Homo sapiens: one gene and its partners. The protein of the gene in region 7 purifies or fractionates together with the protein of the main gene of each other region. This does not show direct contact. Each region holds a gene or a part of one and is shown on either strand. Other genes may lie near its edges.

Region 1 (3,500 bases), on a different chromosome or scaffold from region 7:
TATGACAACTATTTACATAGCATTTATATTGTATTAGGTATTATAAGTAATCTAGAGATGATTTAAAGTATAAGGGAGGGTGTACATAGTTTATACACATATTACACCATTTTATTCAGGGATTTGGCCATCTGTGGGTTTTGCTATCCGTGGGAGATCCTGGAACCAATCCCTCATGGATGTTGAGGGATGATTGTATATTTATATTTGTTGACATGCATTTTAGAGAAGCTTTTGAAATAAAGTATCCCTAGTGTAATTTACTTCAATCATGTGAGTTAATTTGTTTCTTAATACCCACTATTATCAAATACTCAGTATTATTGAAAAATTTCTAAACACAAGTACAAGTGTGTTCGTAGTTTAAATTTCTGTCATCCTGAGCAGCTTTAATTTTTTTTCCTTAACCTGAAGCTTTGTGTCTAGACTTGTGGGTTCTCCTACAAATTTGCCAGATTTTAGATCAAACCTTGGCTTTTCCAAATAACTATAGTTTTTTCAAGCCAGACCTAGGATAGGAATGGAAAAAGAAACTTTCTTTCCTGTTGTTGTTGGAGTGATGTTAGGTTGAATATGACTCAGTAAGCTAAGCCAGCTAAGGCTGCAAACAGGCTTCTACCACGGCAAATGATAATGATTCAAGTACAGACTTGGGGCAAATCTGTAAATTTTATTTTGTAGGTCAATGACGCTACCTATGAGATTCCAGATTTTTCACCAACCATTAAAGGTGTTCTTTGGGAAAACTGGCCAATGGATAAAGGTGTATTTATTGCTTATGATGATGATAAGGTGTACACTTATGTCTTTCACAAGGACACTATACAAGGTACTAAACCCCTTTTGTGTATATTCGCTGACAGATGAATTTCCCATTGCAGTAAAATTAAAACATTCTTTCTGATGTTTGTGCTGAGTATTAGCTTTCAGCATTGCGATGTCTGTTTTATAATGTAGGAGCCAAGGTTATTTTGGCTGGTAGCACCAAAGTTCCTTTTGCTCATAAACCTTTGCTGCTATATAATGGAGAGCTGACCTGCCAAACACAGAGTGGAAAAGTAAACAACATCTACCTTAGCACCCATGGCTTTCTCAGCAACTTAAAAGATACGGGGCCTGACGAACTGAGACCAATGCTGGCACAGAATTTAATGCTAAAGAGGTAGGCTTTCACACACTTCTTTTGGAACTTCTCATTTGCTTTTGTGATTTTAAAGGTCAAATCCTATAATTATTCTATCTTATTTTATTGCTTTATTCTTTATCCTTGCAAGAATTTTTTTTTTTTTTGTAAATGTAGAAGTACAAGTGCAGTTGTGCTACATGGATATAGTGCATATGGTGAAGTCTGGGCTTTTAATGTACCCATCACCAGAATAGTGAACACTGTACCCAGTGGGTAGTATTTTATCCCTCAACCCTGTCTCACCATCCCGCCTTTTGGAGTTGCCAGTATCTATTATTCCACCTGTATGTCCATGTGTACCCATTGTTTACCTCCCACTTCTAAGTGAGAACATGCAGTTTTTGACTTTGGGGCATTTCACTTAGGATAATGACCTCGAATTCCATCCATATTGCTGCAAAAGACATGATTTCATTTTTTTAATGGCTGAGTAGTATTCCATAGTGTGTATATCTATATATACACACCACTTTTTAAAATCCAGTCATCTGTTGATGGACACTTAAGTTGATTCCATGACTTTGCTATTGTGAATAGTGCTGCAGTAAACATATGAGTGCAGGTGTCTTTTTGATAAAATGTCAAATCCTATTCAATAGATGGAGATAACAGCACTTACCTTGTTCATTTCACAGGGATATTGTGAGGCTCAGATAAGATAGTCAGCTGTTTTTATTATGAGTACTTTATTACAAGAAAAGCCCTTAAGAACAAAACGGTTTCTAAGCTTCCAGAGAGCCTAGTTATTGGGAAATCCTAATAAAATAAACCTAATTATTTCAACAATATCTTGACTTCATCATAGTGAGGTTTGATTTTGCTTTGCTTATAATTTCCTTTTACTGTTTTTTTCTCTTATCTCCTAGAGCCACCGTGAATTCCTTTGACGTTCTAATTCTTCCGAGCCTCTCTTAAATGCTGCTGTTTATTGGGGTCTCATGAGTTTCCTTCTCTTCTTACTCTAATTATTCTTCCTGAGTGAATCTCCTCTGCTTAACATGGCTCAACATACCACCCATATGAAGCTGACTCTAAAATCTGTGTCTTTATCTTAAACCTGTACTTACAACTACCTTCCAGTCATGTGTCCTTGGAAGTCCATGAGCTCTTCAAACTTGCCCTTTCTAAAACTGAACTCATCAATTTCCACAGGCCCCTATTTTCCCTCACTGTAATCACACATGCACATGCCTTAACACACATATACACCAGCTCCTTTCCTCCTCCCGTGTTCCCTCATCTTTACCCAGGCCCTCACCTGGAATAATGTGTAATGTAACTAACCACTTCCTAACTGCTCTGTCTGCCAATAGCCTTGTAACGATCTCATCTGTTCTCCACACACTTTTGAAGATGTGATTTGATCCTCTTATTTCCCTGCTCAGGATCCTTCAGTGACTTTCTATTGCCTTTACAAACAAATCCATTCCTGGGGGACCTCTATGACCTACTAGGCACTTCATGATTTAACACCAGCTCAACTGTCTCCACTCAAGTCCCTCTCTGTTCCACTGGCTGCTGAAATTGCATATATTTCATGATTCTTCCTGGAATGCCCTTTCCCTGCTCTGAATGTAGTAACCCCTCTTTCTTTACCCATCAGCGATAAGTGGAGCCATCTCCTGCTCCAGGAAGCCTTCCCCGACTTCCCCACCACCACAGGCAGTCCTGCTTGGGGTCTTTCTGATGTGTTGCCTCAGAGCCAGGATGCAGTATACACAGTGGTGAAGAGCATGACACCACTTACCTCTGTGTGCCTTGGGCTAGTCTTTTGACGTCTCTAAGCCTCATTTTCCTAATCTATAAAGGAGACATAATAATAATACTTAGTGGGTAGGGTTATTAGGGTAAGAGAATTTATGCAAAAGACTTAGCACAAAGAGTTACCTATTGTAAGTACTCAGTTACCTCTGTCAAACTATGCTATAGTCATTTGTTTCCTTATCTGTCTCTTCCACCTTCCCCAATTGTGACTGCCTTAAGGACAGCAACTGTGGTTGATTTTTGTATCATGTTTCCAAGCATGTAACGAGTTCAGTAAATGTGTGTTGGATGAAAAAATGGATAGGTGAATAGATAAATGGATGAATGAATAGATAGATGGATGTAATATATTCACTCATGTAGAGGTTCCACAAAAAGTTTAATTGGCATTTATGTTCATGTTTTAAACCAGAGGTCGGAAAACCTTTTGTGTTAAGGTCCAAATGGCAAATATTTCAAGCTTTACGGGCCATAGGGTCTCTATCGCAGCTACTCAGTCTGGCTGTTGTAGCAGGAAAGTGGCCACAGACAATCCATTAAAGAGTGGGCT
Region 2 (3,500 bases), on a different chromosome or scaffold from region 7:
TGTGAAGTGTATTTCTGTAGATTAAATTCTGTTTTCCATTGAATGTTATCTTAATTTCAGAAAATTTCTGTGCAGGGTTATTTTATTAAGCTCATTTTTTTTTTTTTTTTTTTTTTTTTGGTGAGAAAGGCTCAGCAGCTAATAGACTCAGCAACAGGCAGCCAGGAGCTCTGAGGCTCACAGCTGGCAGTCTAGTTCCACTCAGTCTCTACTGGAGAAATTCTTTCTTTGGAAGTACAGCAGAGGCCTTAGGTGAGTGGCTTGTCTGCTATGGCAGAGATTAGAGGTGCTGCCAGACTGCCATAAGTGTTAGGCAGTAACAGCAGCAGCTGCTTATATGCATGTGAACAGCTGGGGAATTAATTTGGTATGCATTCTCAGGAGCCACTCATCTGCTGGCAGAGGTAGCAGAAGAATGCCCTTAGTGTAAGTCCTCTACAACCATACACCAAATGTGCTCCCTGCATTTCAAATTCCATTGTAGAAAGTCTCTGATAATCTCACTTATACTATGAGCCATTCCTCAGTATCTGTCCTCTTCCTGTTAGTGTTCTACAATTCCTTTCTCCTTAATTTTTCTCCGCTTTACAAAATGTCACACAGACAAGTGCATAATACTTAAACAAGCTTTTAAAAATAATGCTCATAAATAGCTTTGGTTCTGTCATAATATTCGTATTTATAAACATTTTAAGTCAATTCTCTTCTTTTGTTTTCATTTCAGAAATATCCATGTCCTGAATAAAAGTTGTGTCTTGATTAGTTTATTATGTAACAATTTAGTGTGTTTGACATTTCTAACTTTTATTTCTAACATTTGCTTTATTATAGAACAATAAACATGCAGTGATTGATTTTTCTTACTTCAAGTGGATGAGTGAGCAAGTGACTAAAATCTTCTGTGAATTATTCAGTGTATGGTGCTTGCCAGTGCATCTGAGAATCTAGGGACTTTCTGAAATAGTACTTCCTTGCTATGAGGACTGAAGTTGCATTAGAATCCTTTTCAATGAAGATCAGATGTCCTGAGTACAATTCTTACTATTGGGTCCTGAATCTTACATTAAATATTCTCTCAAATTCCTTGAGGCATAGCAACTTGAGCTTACCAGTTTAGAAACTGGAGATTTGGGCTGGGCGCGGTGGCTCACGCCTGTAATCCCAGCACTTTGGGAGGCCAAGGTGGGTGGATCACGAGGTCAGGAGATGGAGACCATCCTGGCTAACACTGTGAAACCCCGTCTCTACTGAAAATACAAAAAATTAGCTGAGCCTGGTGGTGGGCGCCTGTAGTCCCAGCTACTCAGGAGGCTGAGGCAGGAGAATGGCGTGAACCCGGGAGGCGGAGCTTGCAGTGAGCTGAGATCGCACCACTGCACTCCAGCCTGGGTGACAGAGCGAGACTCTGTCTCAAAAAAAAAAAAAAAAAAAAAAACAAAACCGGAGATTTGGTTAACAAAATAGTCAAAGTCACTCTTATAGAAGTTTTGTTTTATTTTTTGTTTAAAATTTTTTTACCATTTTGTAGCTGACAAGTACTGACAATAAACTGCTATAAGCATGTGTAGAAAAAGGCTCACCTTGAGTAGTTAAGAGTAAGGAAAAGGAATAGTGTGTAGCATCGTCTTAGTGGTAAGACTTAAGTTGATTTAGTAGCAAATGGAAGTACTAGTGAACCACATAGATTTCAGAAGTAGGAGTAAAAGGTTAGAAGATGTGTCATTTTAATCTTCTCTAGACTTTTTCTTAATTTTTAGAAATGTAAGTGGACTGAACAGAGGAAAACCAAAACACAGCTGGTCAATAATAAGTTAAATTAATTTGACAAACTGCCTACTATGCATTTCATAGCATTTTAAGGACTATATAAGCAATGGATAAGGCAAAAACTCTGCCTTTAAGGAGATCAGTCATTGGGGGGAAACAGAAGCAAACAAACAAAAAGGCAACATAATAGATATTAATATTAATACAAGAATTTTAAAAGCACAGAGTTCTATAATAATAGGAAAATAGAGGGAATGATTGCTCAACTTTTCTTGAAAAAGAGTCAGGAAAATATTGACCGAGAAGACAGTCATTGACCTGAGTCTTAAAGAATGAATAAGGCTTTTACAGATGGAGTAGGGTAGGGATAACTTTCCAGGTATAAGGAAGATTTTGTATTCCAGGGACCTTTGAATTTTTTAGAATGGCTAGAAAACTTGGTATTATGTAGCACAGAAAAAGTGGTATGACTGAAGAGATAGAGAACTTACCACAAAGGGTCTTGAATGCCATGATACATAGTTTGGATTTTCTTCTGTAGGGAGCAAGGAGTTAGTGAAGGATTTTAAAAGCAACATGCCTCTTGGGAGGTAGATTCAATGTGAGGCTAATCTCCGAGGTATAGGAAATACAGGAAGGAGGAGCAACAGGTCGGGTAGTGGTGGAAGCAGGTTTGGAAAATGTGATTAGTTTTGTAAGCGTTTTTGAGTTTGAAGTGCCACTGGGGAAGGCTTTTGGAAATTTATTTCCAGAGTTCAAGACTGAGCTATCATTGCAGTTTGCTCAGCTATTTACTGAGCTATCTACTGTCAATTTGGATAGTATCTACAGTTTGCATTGTAGATACTGGATACTTGGATTGGCTGGTGCACCCTGTTTGTGAGACTCACTGGAGTTTGAAGAGATGACCACTGGAAAATATCCCTAAGCAGTAGCTGCAATTCCACCCCCACCTTGGAGAGCCAAAACCCTCTTCATTTTCACTCTCCTGTCCTTGGTCTTAGGCTACTTAAAGCAGCCTTTAGACATAGGGAAAAATTGAAAGCCTCTCTTTTAAGAAAAACATTAGGTACTTCTGGAATAGAGAGTTCAAGAAATTAGGAGAAAAATGAACTTTTGAAGCTTTTTCTTTCCCTTTTTTGTTTACTTCATTCTCTTACTCAGTTTTAAAATGCTGGTAATGGTCTTTTTTTTCTTTTTTTTTTTTTCTTGGCGATTTTAATGCTTTGGAAAAGATCTCATGGTTTTATCTCCAAAGGAGGAAATTAATTTGATGCCATGGAAATTAGTTTTCTAGTCGTATGCCTTGAATGAGTGAAGAATTTGTTTTTCATGGTGGTACTAAATTTGGGGAAAGCTATAGAAACTTTCATCTGGAAGCTTACACTTTTCCTCTTTTTTGAAAATTTGGTGAGAGACTTGGATATTTTATTGTTTTCTGTAAAAGAGTGTAATTTGTTGTACAGGTCTAATATTGATCCTTTTTTGGAAGTATGGAAAGAATCTGAGTATAAAGCAGAATTACCTCTGGATGGCATGTATTCTCAAGGACACTGTCACAGTGAAACAGTTTATTTAGAAGCTTGTGTTTCCAAAGTGTTGAATTTGATATTCACAAAATTGGCATGTGTAAACTTTATTAAACTTTAAGCTATTTCCTAAGATGAAGATGACAAACTTGGAGGGAAACTTCATTCATTTGGTTTATTTTTATTTTTATTTTTATTTATTTT
Region 3 (3,500 bases), on a different chromosome or scaffold from region 7:
GGGAATTAGGAAAAGGTTGGCTTGAGAGAATACAGGTAGTGCTCACAAAGTATTAAGAAACACTACTTAGTAATTGCCTGACAAAATACTTGAAATGTATAGTAAGGCTGCTGAATATATTGTGTTGAATATTCTTAGAAAGCTGAACAGAAAATAACATTGCAAATCTTTGTTTTTCAAGATCCCAAGTCTCATTTTAAGAGCAGATTTAAATAAATTATCTTGATTTATTTTTTCAAAGCTCAGTTGTGGGTGCATCACTGTTTATTATATAATTTACACTTACATGTATGCCTGAAATATTTCATTATGAAAACACTGTTTTAAAAGTCTTTTTAAGCACAAGTTTTTTGTTTGTTTTTTGTTTTTTTTTTAGTTAGTTCTATCATCTTAGTGTAGATATTGCTGCTGAATCAGAATGGGAGAGGCGTATTCTGTGATGGTAATAACTACCTTTTATGGGCCAGGTACTGTGCTAGTAATTGTTGTGCATATCTGACTCACCCTAGGGGTAGGTATTACCATCTCATTTTACAAATGAAGGAATAGGGTTTCAGATATTAAATCACTTGCCCAAAGTCCCATGGCTTGTAAGTGCTAGAGGTGGGATTTCATTTTATATTTTCCAACTCTAAAGCCCAAACAGTTTGTAACTCTTGTGCCGCCTTAGCCTCCGAAGTATGAATTTTATATACTACAATCTAATTTTAAAACTGGTATAGTTAAAAATACTATGAGCCAATGCTCAGTCACATGGCTAGTAGGGAAAACAGGAACCTGACAGGTCATTCCAACTAATTCAGGCTAATTTTTAAATAAACTTGTGTGATATACCAAGGCAGATCCCTGTCCTATACTGTTCTCCATGAGATATACCCAAGATCATCAGAAGCATTTGGAATTTAACTGGGTAAAGAGAGTGTCACCCAGCAGCTGCTGAGCAAGAAATGAACTAGAACGGCTGATTGCTAATTATATGTTGTGCATCCTGTTTTTTGTCAGCTTGAAAATAGTGTCTTTACTCTTTTGTTATTTGGAAATGAATTCTTTTTTTCTCATCAGTGATGATTTCTTTCTTTAAAAACTGACATCAGGCAAGGAAATGCTAGATGGTTTTGTCTTTATTTTTGAGAGTAATTGTTCAAAGGAGAGAGTCCAGAGACCTGGATTCTAGGCTTAGTTCTCTTAGCAATTCTGTATAAACCCTGGGAACCATCTAACTTCACTGGGTTGATCTGTAAAATAAAGTAGTTGAACTAGATGGTTTCCTTGTTCTCTTCAGCTATGAAATGCTCCTCAAATGTCATCTGATTGAAAGATCACAAAGACTGAGGCAGGAGGACCTGGGTTTTGTCTCTCTCTCTCTCTCTTTTTTTTTTCCTGAAATACTTTAATAAGAATGATATCTGTCTCTTACTAGCTAAGTGACTGGTTAAGTCTTGGATCTTCAGCTGGGCGTGGTGGCTCACGCCTGTAATCCCAGCACTTTGGGAGGCCGAAGCAGGTGGATCACGAGGTCAGGAGATCAAGACCATCCTGGCTAACACGGTGAAACCCCGTCTCTACTAAAAATACAAAAAATTAGCCGTGCGTGGTGGCGGGCGCCTGTAGTCCCAGCCACTCGGGAGGCTGAGGCAGGAGAATGGCGTGAACCCGGGAGGCGGAGCTGGCAGTGAGCCCAGATCACGCCACTGCACTCCAGCCTGGGTGACAGAGCGAGACTCTGTCTCAAAAAAAAAAAAAAGTCTTGGATCTTCTTTGATCTTTAGACCCTTTATCGCTCTCTCTTTTTTTTTTTTTCCTTGACGCCTGGCTAATTTTTTGTATTTTTAGTGGAGACGGGGTTTCACCATGTTAGCCAGGATGGTCTCGATATCCTGACCTTGTGATCCACCCACCTCGGCCTCCCAAAGTGCTGGGATTACAGGCTTGAGCCATGTGCCCGGCCCCCCTTTATCTCTTAGATAGTAATAATATCAGACCTAACTACCTTACCAGGTTGCTGTGAGAATCAGATGAAATAGTAGTAAATGAGAAGCATGCTGAAAAATTCTAAAGCAAAATATAACTGTAAAATGTATAATTGCTCTAAGTTCTTACATAGTGAAATTGTTTCCATATTTAAACTATTTGATGGAAATGTAGTTTATTGAATGAGAAATTTCTGGAATACATGTACTTACATATTTCAGTACCATAATTATTAAATGCATTTAATGTGTTGGGATAGTAATTGTTTATGAATATTAGTACTGTATTAAATGTTAATAAAACCTAATATGTTTTTTCAAAATAATGTGCTAGTGACTTTTTTAGTGTTAGGGATTGATTTTGTTCTTGGCTTTGGTAGAGAGTGCTTTTTGGTTATTCTCTGGCTGATGGAGAAATAAAAAACGTTAAAGCCATTTAGTTAATAATGGAGATGCACCAGAGTTTTTTAAGTAAAATGAATTTCTAAACTAAGATTAAGATCTAGTAAAATTTTCATAAGGTATTTTCAGATAGTTTCCTGTAAAATTGAAGATTTCTTCTCTTAGCTAAACAGTTTTCTATGATTATCTGGCCTCATCAATACTCATAGCTTCAAGAAGATATACTACTAACAATTTAGACTAAATATACTGCTAACAATTCAGTTAGTCTAACCCAATATTTTGAAAAAGTAACAAATAATTTATTTGTATTCAGATGATGTTACATAAGAAAGTCCCTTAGGATGACCTGCATGTTCTTTTTCGTCATTACTAAATGCAGTCTAAGGGCCGGGCATGGTGGCTCACGCCTGTAATCCCAGCATTTTGAGAGGCTGAGGTGGGCAGATCACTTGAGGTCAGGAGTTCAAGACCAGCCTGGCCAACATGGTGAAACCCCATCTCTACTAAAAACACAAAAATTAGCCAGGCATGGTGGCATGTGCCTGTAGTCCCAGCTACTCAGGCGGCTGAGGCAGGAGAATCGCTTGAACCTGGGAGGTGGAGCTTGAAGTGAGCCAAGATTACGCCACTGCACTCCAGCCTGGGCAACAGAGCAAGACTGTGTCAAAAAAAAAAAAAAAAATTAGCTGGTTGTAGTGGTGTACTCCTGTAATCCCAGCTACTTGGGAGGCTGAGGCACGAGAAACACTTGAACCTGGGAGGCAGAGGTTGCAGTGAGCTGAGATCACACCACTGCACTCCAGCCTGGGGAACAGAGCAAGACCCTATCTCAACAAAGGGGAAAAAAAAGTAGTCTAAGGACAGATGATAGGAACTAGGTAGTCCTGGAGAGACTGGAGTTATAACCCACAGGCTCCTCTACGAACATGAAATTTCTTTGAAATATTGTGTCTTATCTTAAAAGTTCACGGACCAGTGTTATGTTCATGGAACTTTTGCATTCTATTCTGTAAATACATCTGTATTTTAATATGAAATAGATTTTTAAAGTTATTCACTGGCAAAATTACTATTCCAGGAAGGTGTTACCTATTACTTATTCCTGGCGTATAGATAACTACCTAC
Region 4 (3,500 bases), on a different chromosome or scaffold from region 7:
CAACATGGTGAAACTTTGTCTCTACTAAAAATACAAAACTTAGCCAGGCATGGTGGCCTGCACCTGTAATCCAGCTACTCGGGCAGCTGAGACAGGAGAATCACTTAAACCCGGAAGGTGGAGGTTGCAGCGAGCTGAGGTCACAGCATTGCATTTCAGCCTGGGCAACAAAGCAAGATTCCATCTCAAAAAAAAAAAAACATTAAAACAAAAATGTCATACCATATTAACTATAATTTTGCAAATTGTGTTTTCTTTTTTTTTTGAGATGGAGTCTTGCTCTGTCGCCCAGGCTGGAGTAGTGGTGCAATCTTGGCTCACTGCGACCTCTGCTTCCCGGGTTCAAGCAATTCTCCTCCTTTAGCCTCCTGAGTAGCTGGGATTACAGGCATGCACCACCACACCTGGCTAATTTTGTATTTTTAGTAGAGACGGTTTCACCATGTTGGTCAGGCTGGTCTTGAACTCCTGACCTGATGATCCACCCGTCTTGGCCTCCGGAAGTGCTGGGATTACAGGCATAAGCCACCACACCCCATTTTGCAAATTTTGTATTCATTGAATTATAGATCATGGATATTTTTTCCATGTGAGTATAAGTACTTCTAACTCATTCTTTAACAGCATCACAAATACTGTGCCCAAAATGACAAGCATTACAAGTAGCAAAATTGAAAAACTGATAAATATATAAGGACCTAACTTGTTTTTTTATCTAAGTAGCAGGTCATTCAGCCTCTGACTGGAGCAGATTTTGGGAATACCCAAAGGCAAGGCCAAAATTTTCCTTAGGAAGTAACTTTGTGTCTGTTAAAATATTTGGATGTATTCCAAGTTAAAGACTTCCAGTTAACCTAGAGAGGGCAGAGGGAATAATTTGTTCCTAGAGACTTGATAGGAAAATCTGCCAGTGTCAAGTTTTCAGGCAAACAATGTATTTAAAATGTATTAAAGGTAGAGAATATTTTAAATGTTTTCTTCTTGGTCTTTACATTTTATATATATATATATACACACATATATATGTACATATACATATACACATGTACATGTACACATATATACATATATACACATACATGTATGTACATATATGTACATATACATATATACACATACATGTGCATATATGTATACATATGTGTATATATGTATACATGTGTGTACATATCTGTATATATACGTATATATGTATACATTTATACGTATATATGTGTATATATGTTGTTTTCAAATCAGTTGATATATGCAAAATTGCTAACAAATGCAAGTTGTATTCGTAACCTAATTTTTAAAGCAATTTTATTCTAGGTGTTACTAAGAGTACTGTATTTGAATATTGATGTTATTCATGAATGCCTCTATTATTTTCAGTTTGTATTCTGTTTCAGTTTTTAAATACTTCTCCTTCAGGGATCTGATGTGATGTATGCAGTTGAAGTTCCTGGACCCCCTACTGTCTTAGCACTACACAATGGAAATGGCGGTAATCAGGATTTTATTTTTCACAAATCAACTATGTGTTTTAATAGTAAGTGAAAATGGGAAATTGTAGAAAGGACATAAACTAGAATTGAGACAGTTGTCTTTCTGGTAACTTGCCAGTAACTAACAGCACGAGTTATTGAACTTTTAATTCTCCGTTTTTTTCTTTTTTGGGGGGCTGGGGGGCAGGGTCTCACTCTGTCTCCCAGGCTGGCGTGCAGTGGTACAATCTCAGCTCACCACGGCCTCGACCTCCCAGGCTCAAGGGATCCTCCCACCTCAGCCTCCCTAGTACTACAGGCGCACACCACCATGCCCGGCTAGGTTTTTGGTATTTTTTATAGAGACAGGGTTTCGCCATGTTGCCCAGGTTAGTCTGGAACTCCTGGGCTCAAGGGATCCTCTCACCTCAGTCTCCCAAAGTGCTGGGATTACAGGCATGAGCCACGGCACCCAACCTAGTTTCTTCATCTTAAAATTATATAATGGGGAAATGTCTTATCTCTTATAGCTATAAAATTGTGTGAATATATAACCATTCTCAACAATTAAGTTTTATATCTTTTTATAGTACTTTTTAAAATGATATTTTTACATAACAACATTTTAATTTTAAAGAGATTACTAATTGTAGGATAAATATAATATGTTGACTTTAATTATAAGTAGGTGACTCTGGAGAAGACCTTTTGTTTGGGACATCAGACGGAAAACTTGCGCTTATACAGATTACTACATCCAAACCAGTACGCAAGTGGGAAATTCAAAATGAGAAAAAGAGAGGAGGTATGCTTTTCATGTAGTTCAGATTCTGAGGTGTCAATGATTATTAAGTATCTTAAATTATATAATTTATTCTATTTTATCTATTTATACTACATAGCAGACTTAGCAATTCACACCTTGATTTATCTACTATTTGTTTATTTGTCAGGTCTATTATACTATTGGCATAATTTTTTAAAAGTAAGAAATGCTGATAGTAATTTGGTATTGATACGTTTTTATAGGCTAATATCATTTTATGCTAAAATCCAATTTTAATTGGATTTTAATTGTCTGAGGTAATTTAGTTGTTTGAGGTACAGAATTAATTGGAATCTGGGAGTCTTTGTTATGAGGCAAAGAAGAAGTGCAGTGGGTCAGAGAATATTCCTGTTTTCTAAGGAATTTATACCTTTCTAAGGAGAATTTATAACTGATTAGGTAGATAGTGAGATGCCTATGTATATGTTCAGGATGTTCATATATTCATTTATTCCTTCAACAAATACTTATTAGGAGAGACAGAGTAAAAACAAATAAATACATAAGACAGCTTTACCTAGTCACCTGAAGAAAATAAAACAGGGCTGTGTATTAGAGAGTGATGGTAGAAGGAGGAGGGTCACTTTTAGACCACGTAGTCAAAGATAGCCTCTTAGAAGAGGTGAAATTTGAACTGAGATCTGATTGATAAGAAAAAGAGTTAGCAATATGAAGATTTGGGGAAAAAAATGTTTCAGGAAGAGGAAAAAGTAAGTGTGAAAGATTTGAGGTGGAGGTAGATTTGATTCATTTGAGGAACAGTAGGAAGGTCAGTCAGTTTGGCTAAATGCGTTAACATGGCAGGAGATGGAGTCAGAGAGGTAGAGTAGAGCCAAATTGTGTAAGCCTTGGAAAACAGTTTGAATTTTAATCTAGGTGCTGTAGGAAGTCATTAGAAAATTGTCAGTGGGAGTGTGACACTTAATTTACTAAGCCTAAACAAAACAAAGGACACTGGAGAATGGATTGGAGGGGGCGGGGGGCAACAGGTCAAAACTGGAAGCATGGAGACCAGTTAGAAGAGTTATTATAATTTATTCTAGTCTAGGCTAGCTTAGTCTAGGCTATCAGTAGCTGGAAACATAGACAATTTCAGTATATATTGTGGAGGTAGAGAAGATGGAATTTGCTAGCAGTTTTGATATGAGGGGTGGTGAGAAAAAGAAAGAAATCAGATGTGGCCCAGAATTTTTGTCTGAGCAGCTAGG
Region 5 (3,500 bases), on a different chromosome or scaffold from region 7:
CCTCAGCCTCCCAAAGTGTTGGGATTACAGGCGTGAGCCACTGCGCCCAGCCTCCACTTCTTTTATACCAAAGCACTTACCATTTTCTAGCATCCTATGTGACTCACTTATGTTTACTGCTTATTGTCTACATCCTCCAGCTAGTATATAGGTTCCATAAGTACAGGGTTTATTGTCTGTTTTGTTCACCTAGTAGATGCTTAATAAATATTTACAGGCTGAATCAACGTCATAAAACATGGCAAGCACAGTCCATGGAAGATACCAGTACTGGAGGGGCTCCCACTACACTGTGCCTTGTAGGCTCTGTACCTGGTTCAATTTCTTGAACTCCACCACTTGGAAGAAGACGTGCTCAAGGATATGTTTGGCATCCTGTTGGTCCTTTGGTAGTTTACTGGTTACTCCAAGAATATCACCACACTTCCTGACATAAAATTCCAGGTCTTCTTCAGTACCTAAGACAGTTGGAGTAGTAGTTAGATTAATTCTTAACTTCTGCCCTTCCCAAAGTACAGACTTAGTGTGTTTCAGGTATGCCCTGTCATGTTTCCACATTTCCTAAGATCACTCACCTCTTCCTAAAGTAATGTGACTACAGGATTTCAACACTGAAAAACCCTAGAGCTCTCTAATGTGCTGCTTTTATAATAAAAGCACTCCTAATCAGAATAAAACTGGACTGGTACTGGCTTTCCTATTCCTCAGATCTAGTATTCCTACATTAGAAAGAACAGGTGCAACAGTAGGAAATCAAATTATCATTCCCTGAATGCAACAAAGATGACTATAGAGAAGCATATGGGTAATTAAAAATAGCATTTACTAAAACAATATTGTATTGGCTGGGCGTGGTGGCTCATGCCTGTAATCCCAGCAATTTGGAAGGCTGAAGCAGGTAGATCACTTGAGGTCAGGTGTTCAAGATCAGCCTGGCCAACATGGCAAAACCCCATCTCTACTAAAAATACAAAAATTAGCCAGATGTGGTGATGCAGGCCTGTAATCCCAGCTACTCGGGAGGCTGAGGCAGGAGAATCACCTCAACTGGGGAGATGGAGGTTGCAGTGAACAGAGATTGCGCCACTGCACTCCACCCCGGGCAACAGAACAGACTCCATCTCAAACAAAACAAAACAAAACAGCCGAGCGTGAAGGCTCACGCCTGTAATCCCAGCACTTTGGGAGGCCAAGGTGAGCGGATCACGAGGTCAGGAGTTCGAGACCAGCCTGGCCAGCATGGTGAAACCCTGTCTCTACTAAAAATACAAAAAAATTAGCCGGGCATGGTGGTGCGCACCTGTAATCCCAGCTACTCGGGAGGCTGAGGTAGGAGAATTGCTTAACCCTGGGAGGCGGAGGTTGCAGTGAGCTGAGATCACGCCATTGCACTCCAGCCTGGGGGACGTGGTGGCTCACATCTGTAATCCCAGCACTTTGGGAGGCTGAGGCAGGTGGATCATCTGAGGCCGGGAGTTCGAGACCAGCCTGACCAACATGGAGAAACCCTATCTCTACTAAAAATACAAAATTAGCCGGGCGTGGTGGTGCATGCCTATAATCCCAGCTACTCAGGAAGGCTGAGGCAGGAGAATCGCTTGAACCCGGGAGGCAGAGGTTGCAGTGAGCTGAGGCTGTGGTGAGCCAAGATCGTGCCACTGCACTCCAGCCTGGGCAACAAGAGCAAAATTAGGTCTCAAAACAAAACAAAACAAAACAAAACCCCAAAAAACAAACAATATTATAGAAAGAAAATTAAAGAAAAAAATCACCCATAATTCCACCAACAACATAGCTCTGTGAAGCCATCCTCTGGAGCCCTACATGTAGGATAGACAGCCATTACTGCCCTTCTCACATTATACTGTAATTTCTTTCTTCCTTTTTTTTTTTTTTTTTTTTTTTTGAGACAAGGTTTGGCTCTATCACCCAGGCTGGAGTGCAGTGGCATGATTTCAGCTCACTGCAACTTCTGCCTCCTGGGCTCAAACCATCCTCCCACCTCAGCCTCCCAAGTAGCTTGGACTACAGGTGTGTACCACCACGCCTGGCTGATTTTTTGTATTTGAGACGGGGTTTCACCATGTCGCCCAAGCTGGTCTCGAACTCGTGAGCTCCAGCAATCCACCTGCTTTGGCCTCCCAAAGTGCTGGGCTTATAGGCATGAGCCACTGAGCCCAGCTGTAATTAATTTATTCTCCCTCTGATTTGCATTTTAAGTTTTGATAGAAATGTATGTTTTTTACTAAGACATTCAAACCCACAGCTGTATCAATGTTTCATCCTAGTTCTACTGCCACCAACTACCTAGAATTATTATTGCTATGTATGCTTCTGTGTGTAAATGTAAGTTTTCACAAAAATGGGATCAAACTAGAATAGTTTTCTAAGTTGACTTCATCATTTAATGATGTATTATGGACATTCCGAATCAAAGTTTATGCCCTGCATTTTTTTTATTTTCTTTTTTGTTTTTTCAGATGGAGTCCCACTCTGTCACCCAGACTGGAGTACAGTGGCGTGATCTTGGCTTACTGCAACCTCCACCTCCCGAATTCAAGCAATTCTCCTGCCTCAGCCTCCCAAGCAGCTGGGATTACAGGCACCTGCCACCATGCCTGGCTAATTTTTTATTTTTATTTTTAGTAGAGACAGGGTTTTACCATCTTGGCCAGGCTGGTCTCAAACTCCTGACCTTGTGATCCACCTGCCTCGGCCTCCCAAAGTGCTGGGATTACAGGCATGAGCCACTGCGCCTGGCCTTTTCTTTTCTGAGACAGGGTCTCGCTCTGTCAACCAGGTTAGAGGACAGTGGCACAATCTTAGCTCACTGCAGCCTTGACTTCCTAGGCTCAAGCAATCCTCCCACCTGGGCCTCCTGAGTAGCTGGTACTACAGGAGTGAGCCACCATGCCCGGCTAATTTTGTTTATTCTTCTATAGAGAAGAGGTCTCACAGTGTTGCCCAGGCTGGTCTCAAGTGATCCTCTTGCCTCAGCCTCCTAAAGTGCTGGGATTATAGGTGTGAGCCATCGCACCCAGGCTACATTTTTCTTTTAACAGGTATGTAATATTCTATTTTGTTTCTATTTATTTATTTTTCAGAAACAGGGTCCTTTGTCACCCAGGCTGGAGTGCAAGGTGTATCATAGCTCACTGCAGCCTCCAACTCTTGGGCCCAAGTGATCCTCCCACCTCAGCCTTCCAAGTAGCTAGGAATATAGAAATGCGTCACCGCACCTGGCTACTTAAAAAAATTTTTTTTTTTAGATGGAGTTTCGCTCTTGTTGCCCAGGCTGGAGTGCAATGACACGATCTCGGCTCACCGCAACTTCCAACTCCTGGGTTCAAGCGATTCTCCTGCCTCAGCCTCCCCAGTAGCTGGGATTACAGGCATGCGCCACCACACCCAGCTAATTTTGTATTTTTAGTAGAGAAGGGGTTTCTCCATGTTGGTCAGGCTGGTCTTGAACTCCCAACCTCAGGTGATCTGCCCACCTT
Region 6 (2,571 bases), on a different chromosome or scaffold from region 7:
GATATCTGTGCCTGTACCCAGCGATGCCGACTCCCCCAGATTCAAGACCAGTGTGGGCAGCGCCAAGTATGTGCCGGAGAGAAACGTCGTGATTTGGAGTATTAAGTCTTTCCCGGTAAGTACCAGGGACTGGCGGGGGATCTGGGGGTGGAGGGGACTGGAGTAGTGTGGGGGCTGCCCAGGAGCCATGAGAACAAGGCAGAGAACAAATCAGAGACCCAGTCAGGTGTGATGGCTCATGACTGGAATGCCAGTACTTTGAGAGGCTGACACGGGCAGATCGCTTGAACCCAGGAGCTGGAGACCAGCCTGGGGAACACAGTGAGACCCTGCCTCTATAAAAATATTAAGAGGAGCTGGGCGCAGTGGCTCACGCCTGAAATCCCAGCCTGGCTAACATAGAGACGGCTAACATCCGTCTCTAGTAAAAGTACAAAAATTAGCTGGGTGTGGTGGCGCATGCCTGTAATCCCAGCCACTCGGGACACTGAGGCAGGAGAATTGCTTGAACCCGGGAGGCAGAGGTTGCAGTGAGCTGAGATTGTGCCACTGCACACTCCAGCCTGGGCAACAGAACGAGACTCCGTCTCAAAAAAAAAAAAAAAAGATTAAAAGGCCAGACATGGTGGCTCATACCTGTAATCCCAGCACTTTGGGAGGCTGAAGCGGGCAGATCACCTGAGGTCAGAAGTTCAAGACCAGCCTGGCCAACATGGTGAAAACCCGTCTCTACTAAAAATACAAAAATTAGGGCAGGGCACGGTGGCTCACGCCTGTAATCCCAGCACTTTGGGAGGCCGAGGTGGGCGGATCACGAGGTCAGGAGATCGAGACCATCCTGGCTAACATGGTGAAACCCCATCTCTACTAAAAATACAAAAAATTAGCCGGGCGTGGTTGCAGGCGCCTGTAGTCCCAGCTATTTGGGAGGCTGAGGCAGGAGAATGGCCTGAACTCGGGAGGTGGAGCTTGCAGTGAGCAGAGATCACGCCACTGCACTCCAGCCTGGGTGACAGAGCGAGACTCCATTTCAAAAAAAAAAAAAAAAAAAAAATTAGCCGGGCATGGGGGTGTGCGCCTGTAGTACCAGCTACTCAGGAGGCTGAGGCAGGAGAATCACTTGAACCCGGGAGGCGGAGGTTGCAGTGAGTTGAGATCACGCCACCGCACTCCAGCCTGGGTGACAGAGTGAAACTCTGTCTCAAGAAAAAAAAAAAAACTTAGAAAAAAGAAATACAAGGCCAGGCGCAGTGGCTCACGCCTGTAATTCCCAGCACTTTGGGAGGCTGAGGCGGGCAGATTACGAGGTCAGGAGATCGAGACCATCCTGGCTAACACTGTGAAACCCCGTCTCTACTAAAAATACAAAAAAAAAAAAAATTAGCTGGGCGTGGTGGCGGGCGCCTGTAGTCCCAGCTACCGGGAGGCTGAGGCAGGAGAATGGCGTGAACCTGGGAGGCGGAGCTTGCAGTGAGCCAAGACCGCACCACTACACTCCAGCCTGGGCGACAGAGTAAGACTCCATCTCAAAAAAAAAAAAAAAGAAAAAAAAAGAAAAAAAAAGAAAAAAGAAATACAAGTAAATCAGAGAGGTACGTATGTATGCAAGTGATCAAGCTTGAAACCAGGCCAGTCTATTTCACAGACGTGTAAACTTCCATGACGGGAAGTGTGTGGATTTAAATATCCCCCTGCCAATGTCTTGAGGAAACCAGCCCTGGGTTCACCTTCCTCACTATTGCTTTGCTGAGCTGGGTGGGTTTGGGAAACCCATTTCCACTTAAGGAGGCTCAGTTTGCCTGTCTGTGAAATGGGCAGGATGAGGTGACCCACATCCCTTGGCTACTAGAGGTTTTGGTTTGTCCCCATGATCTTGGGAGAGGTGGATCATCAGTGCCTGTAAAACAGGACATGGTAGTTAAAAAAAGAAAAAAACCCTGATTGGGTTTTGCAGTCAGAATCTTCCCTGGTGAGTCTCTGTCACCCAGGTTGGGGTGCAGTGGTGAGATCATGGCTCACTGCAGCCTCAAACTCCCAGACTCAAGGGATCTTCCTGCCTCAGCCTCCCAAGTAGCTGAAACTGCAGGCATGTTCCACCGCACCCAGCTAATTTTTAAACTTTTTGTAGACATGGTATCTCAATATGTTGCCCAGGCTAAGGAGCCTTTATTTTCCTGTCTGTGAAATGGGCTGTGAGCAGATCTGACTCCAGGGGTTGCTGAAAGGAAGGTCTCGGGAGGGTAGGCGGACCCTCGTGTACCTGATGCCCCCATGTTCCCTCAGGGGGGCAAGGAGTACTTGATGCGAGCCCACTTTGGCCTCCCCAGTGTGGAAAAGGAAGAGGTGGAGGGCCGGCCCCCCATCGGGGTCAAGTTTGAGATCCCCTACTTCACCGTCTCTGGGATCCAGGTGAGAGAAGCAGGCAGGGAGGATCCTCCCCTTGACTTCGGTGGGTTCCCCTCTCTCCTGTCCCTTGGCTCGAGTCACCTCAGTCCCCTGGCCTGTGTCAACACTCCTCTGAAGGCTGCCTGGTCTTTCCCAGAGCAATGTTACCTTTATCTGCCCACAGCC
Region 7 (2,408 bases):
GAAGATGGTGTTTTTCTTTTCCTTTTAAGCTCAGCGGTTAGCAGCTTTCTAGATAAGGGCAGTCCTGATCATAATCTGACTGTGTTTGCACAGAACAGCAGAGCTGGCCTCTCCCCTCCTGCCCTAAATTCTGGTACTTGCTTGTCTTCCTAATTCATGCCTGTGGCATTTTTTTTTTTTTTTTCAGAATAGGGGACTTATGTCTGCATTAAAAACATGTTCAGGCAGATATCCTTTCTCCTCTTTCTCCTCAGTGACTTTCTTCATGGTTTCCGTATCCAGGAACTTGTCTGCTGCCCCTTGGCCGACAGAAGCTGCTTCTCCTGTTATCTTGACATTTTTCCAGCCAAGCCTCTTTCTAAAATTATCAAACCATCCTTTGCTGGGATTAGATTCTCCAGCTTCAGTTCCTTCCCCTTCCTTTTGTTTGAAGAGACTACAGGTACACCTTTCTCAGTGTATTAGTAAGTATTCTCTAGAAGGACAGAATAGGATATATATACATATGAAATGGAGTTTATTAAGGAGAACTGAGGCACAGGATCACAGGGTGAAGTCCCACAATAGGCTGTCTGCAAACTGAGGGGCAAGGAAGCCAGTAGTAGCTCAGTCTGAGTCCCCAAACCTCTAAAGGAGGGAAGCCGACAGTGCAGCCTTCAGTCTGTGGCCGAAGGCCCGAGAGCCCCTGGCAAAACACCAGTGTAGGTCCAAGAGTCCAAAAGCTAAAGAACTTGGAGTCTGATGTTCAAGGGCAGGAAGCATCCAGCATGGGAGAGAGATGAAGGCCAGAAGACTCAGCCAGTCAGCTTCAGCCACCTTCTTCTGCCTGCTTTTTCCAGCCATGCTGGCAGCCGACTGGATGGTGCCTGCCCACACTGTGGTGGGTCTTCTCCCAGTCCACTGACTCAAATGTTAATCTCTTCTGGCAACACCCAGAAACAATACTTTACATTCTTCAATCTAATCAAGTTGACATTTAATATGAACCATCACACACAGCAATCCTATACCCACATAAAAGCTGCATTCCCAATACAAGATAAAAAGGTATTTCACAGAAAGTGTTAAGGCTTTTGTGCCTGCTCACAAATTTCCTTATTTTTTTACTATGGTCCTTACGCTGGATTCATTTATCTTGAATTGGTAGGCAACCGCAGCTGTAAACCTCAATCTACGGAACATATCAAGAAATTCAACTTTTTCTTGAAATGTCATGACTTTTCTCTGCTTCTCAGGAGCTCTTTGGCATGACTGGTGGCACTCTATGGGTCCCAAAGTGTTCTTCAAGGTTTACAGTATTGCGCTCAACATGAAAAATACACAAGAACATCCCGATGTCCCCTTTTTTTCAAGTTGGGGTCTCACTCTGTTGCCCAGGCTTGAGTGCAGTGGTGCAATCACAGCTCACTGCAGCCTCGACCTCCTGGGCTCAAGGGATCCTCCTGCCTCAGCCTCCTGAGTAGCTGGGACTGCAGGCGTGTGCCACCATGTCCAGTTAAAACAGATCACTTTTTACCGTGATACACAATGTACTGAAGACATGAACCGCTCGTGCAGAGATTAGCACCACACGATGTTTTAAGCGGATCCTTGACATGCTTGCGCTCACTGCAATAGCAACAGGAGGTGGCTTTGTAATTATTCCAGCAGCACACTGTGGACTGCAGTTAATTTCATGCAGTTATAATTTAATGCTGCATTTTTTTTTTTTTGAGACAGAGTTTTGCTCTTGTTGCCCAGGCTGGAGTGCAATGGCGTGATCTCGGCTCACTGCAACCTCTGCCTTCCGGGTTCAAGTGATTCTCCTGCCTCAGCCTCCCAAGTAGCTGGAGTTACAGGCATGTGCCACCATGCCTGGCTAATTTTTTATTTTTAGTAGTCACGGGGTTTCTCCATGTTGGCCAGGCTGGTCTTGAACTCCTGACCTTAGGTGATCTGCCCACCTCGGCCTCCCAAAGTGCTGGGATTACAGGCGTGAGCCACTGCACTCGGCCAATGCTGCATCTTTACGGCGACATTTCTCTCTACTGTGAATGGTCCATGTATGGTCTGTATATTTTATGCATTCATGACATAACTTTTTCTTTTTTCAGATATTTCTAGGCTATGTGGCTCATCTGCAAAGTTTTTCAAATTGTTGCAAATTTCCAAAAATTTTTGCAATATATATTTTTTTAAAAATCCACTTATAAGTGGACCCTTATAATTCAAACTCTTGTTCAAGGGTCAACTTATACAATGCTGGACACTCACTAAAAACTTATTAGAAAAATGTAATATATTATAGAAAAAAGAAGAAAAGAGATATAAAGGAAATGAAAAGATGGAGAATTTCAACAGAGAATCGGCATCCACAAAAAATTACCAGACACCTTAGACCTGAAAAACACAACATCTGAAATTTAAAA

The links.
Region 1: the proteins of LRRC27 (region 7) and WDR19 purify together in Homo sapiens (affinity purification with mass spectrometry; one large-scale study listed by BioGRID and IntAct). This does not show direct contact.
Region 2: the proteins of LRRC27 (region 7) and ZNG1A purify together in Homo sapiens (affinity purification with mass spectrometry; one large-scale study listed by BioGRID and IntAct). This does not show direct contact.
Region 3: the proteins of LRRC27 (region 7) and KLHL12 purify together in Homo sapiens (co-immunoprecipitation; one large-scale study listed by IntAct). This does not show direct contact.
Region 4: the proteins of LRRC27 (region 7) and BBS7 purify together in Homo sapiens (affinity purification with mass spectrometry; 2 studies listed by BioGRID and IntAct, with this or other methods). This does not show direct contact.
Region 5: the proteins of LRRC27 (region 7) and IFT52 purify together in Homo sapiens (affinity purification with mass spectrometry; 2 studies listed by BioGRID and IntAct, with this or other methods). This does not show direct contact.
Region 6: the proteins of LRRC27 (region 7) and AP1M2 purify together in Homo sapiens (co-immunoprecipitation; one large-scale study listed by IntAct). This does not show direct contact.

Annotation. Positions count from the first base shown.
Region 1 is NC_000004.12:39,227,529-39,231,028, forward strand, and holds part of WDR19 (WD repeat-containing protein 19), read left to right. Parts: intron 1-681; coding exon 682-829; intron 830-957; coding exon 958-1,162; intron 1,163-3,500. UniProt on the Homo sapiens protein: As component of the IFT complex A (IFT-A), a complex required for retrograde ciliary transport and entry into cilia of G protein-coupled receptors (GPCRs), it is involved in cilia function and/or assembly.
Region 2 is NC_000009.12:148,057-151,556, reverse strand, and holds part of ZNG1A (zinc-regulated GTPase metalloprotein activator 1A), read left to right. Parts: intron 1-129; exon of another isoform or gene 130-252; intron 253-831; coding exon of another isoform or gene 832-850; exon of another isoform or gene 851-3,500. UniProt on the Homo sapiens protein: Zinc chaperone that directly transfers zinc cofactor to target metalloproteins, thereby activating them.
Region 3 is NC_000001.11:202,920,735-202,924,234, reverse strand, and holds part of KLHL12 (kelch-like protein 12), read left to right. Parts: intron 1-3,500. UniProt on the Homo sapiens protein: Substrate-specific adapter of a BCR (BTB-CUL3-RBX1) E3 ubiquitin ligase complex that acts as a negative regulator of Wnt signaling pathway and ER-Golgi transport.
Region 4 is NC_000004.12:121,853,475-121,856,974, reverse strand, and holds part of BBS7 (BBSome complex member BBS7), read left to right. Parts: intron 1-1,413; coding exon 1,414-1,486; coding exon of another isoform or gene 1,487-1,531; intron 1,532-2,151; coding exon of another isoform or gene 2,152-2,154; coding exon 2,155-2,271; intron 2,272-3,500.
Region 5 is NC_000020.11:43,639,437-43,642,936, reverse strand, and holds part of IFT52 (intraflagellar transport protein 52 homolog), read right to left. Parts: intron 459-3,500; coding exon 313-458; intron 1-312. UniProt on the Homo sapiens protein: Involved in ciliogenesis as part of a complex involved in intraflagellar transport (IFT), the bi-directional movement of particles required for the assembly, maintenance and functioning of primary cilia. Required for the anterograde transport of IFT88.
Region 6 is NC_000019.10:10,574,742-10,577,312, reverse strand, and holds part of AP1M2 (AP-1 complex subunit mu-2), read left to right. Parts: coding exon 1-115; intron 116-2,283; coding exon 2,284-2,409; intron 2,410-2,571. UniProt on the Homo sapiens protein: Subunit of clathrin-associated adaptor protein complex 1 that plays a role in protein sorting in the trans-Golgi network (TGN) and endosomes.
Region 7 is NC_000010.11:132,379,601-132,382,008, reverse strand, and holds the end of LRRC27 (leucine-rich repeat-containing protein 27), read right to left. Parts: 3' UTR 501-2,408; downstream 1-500.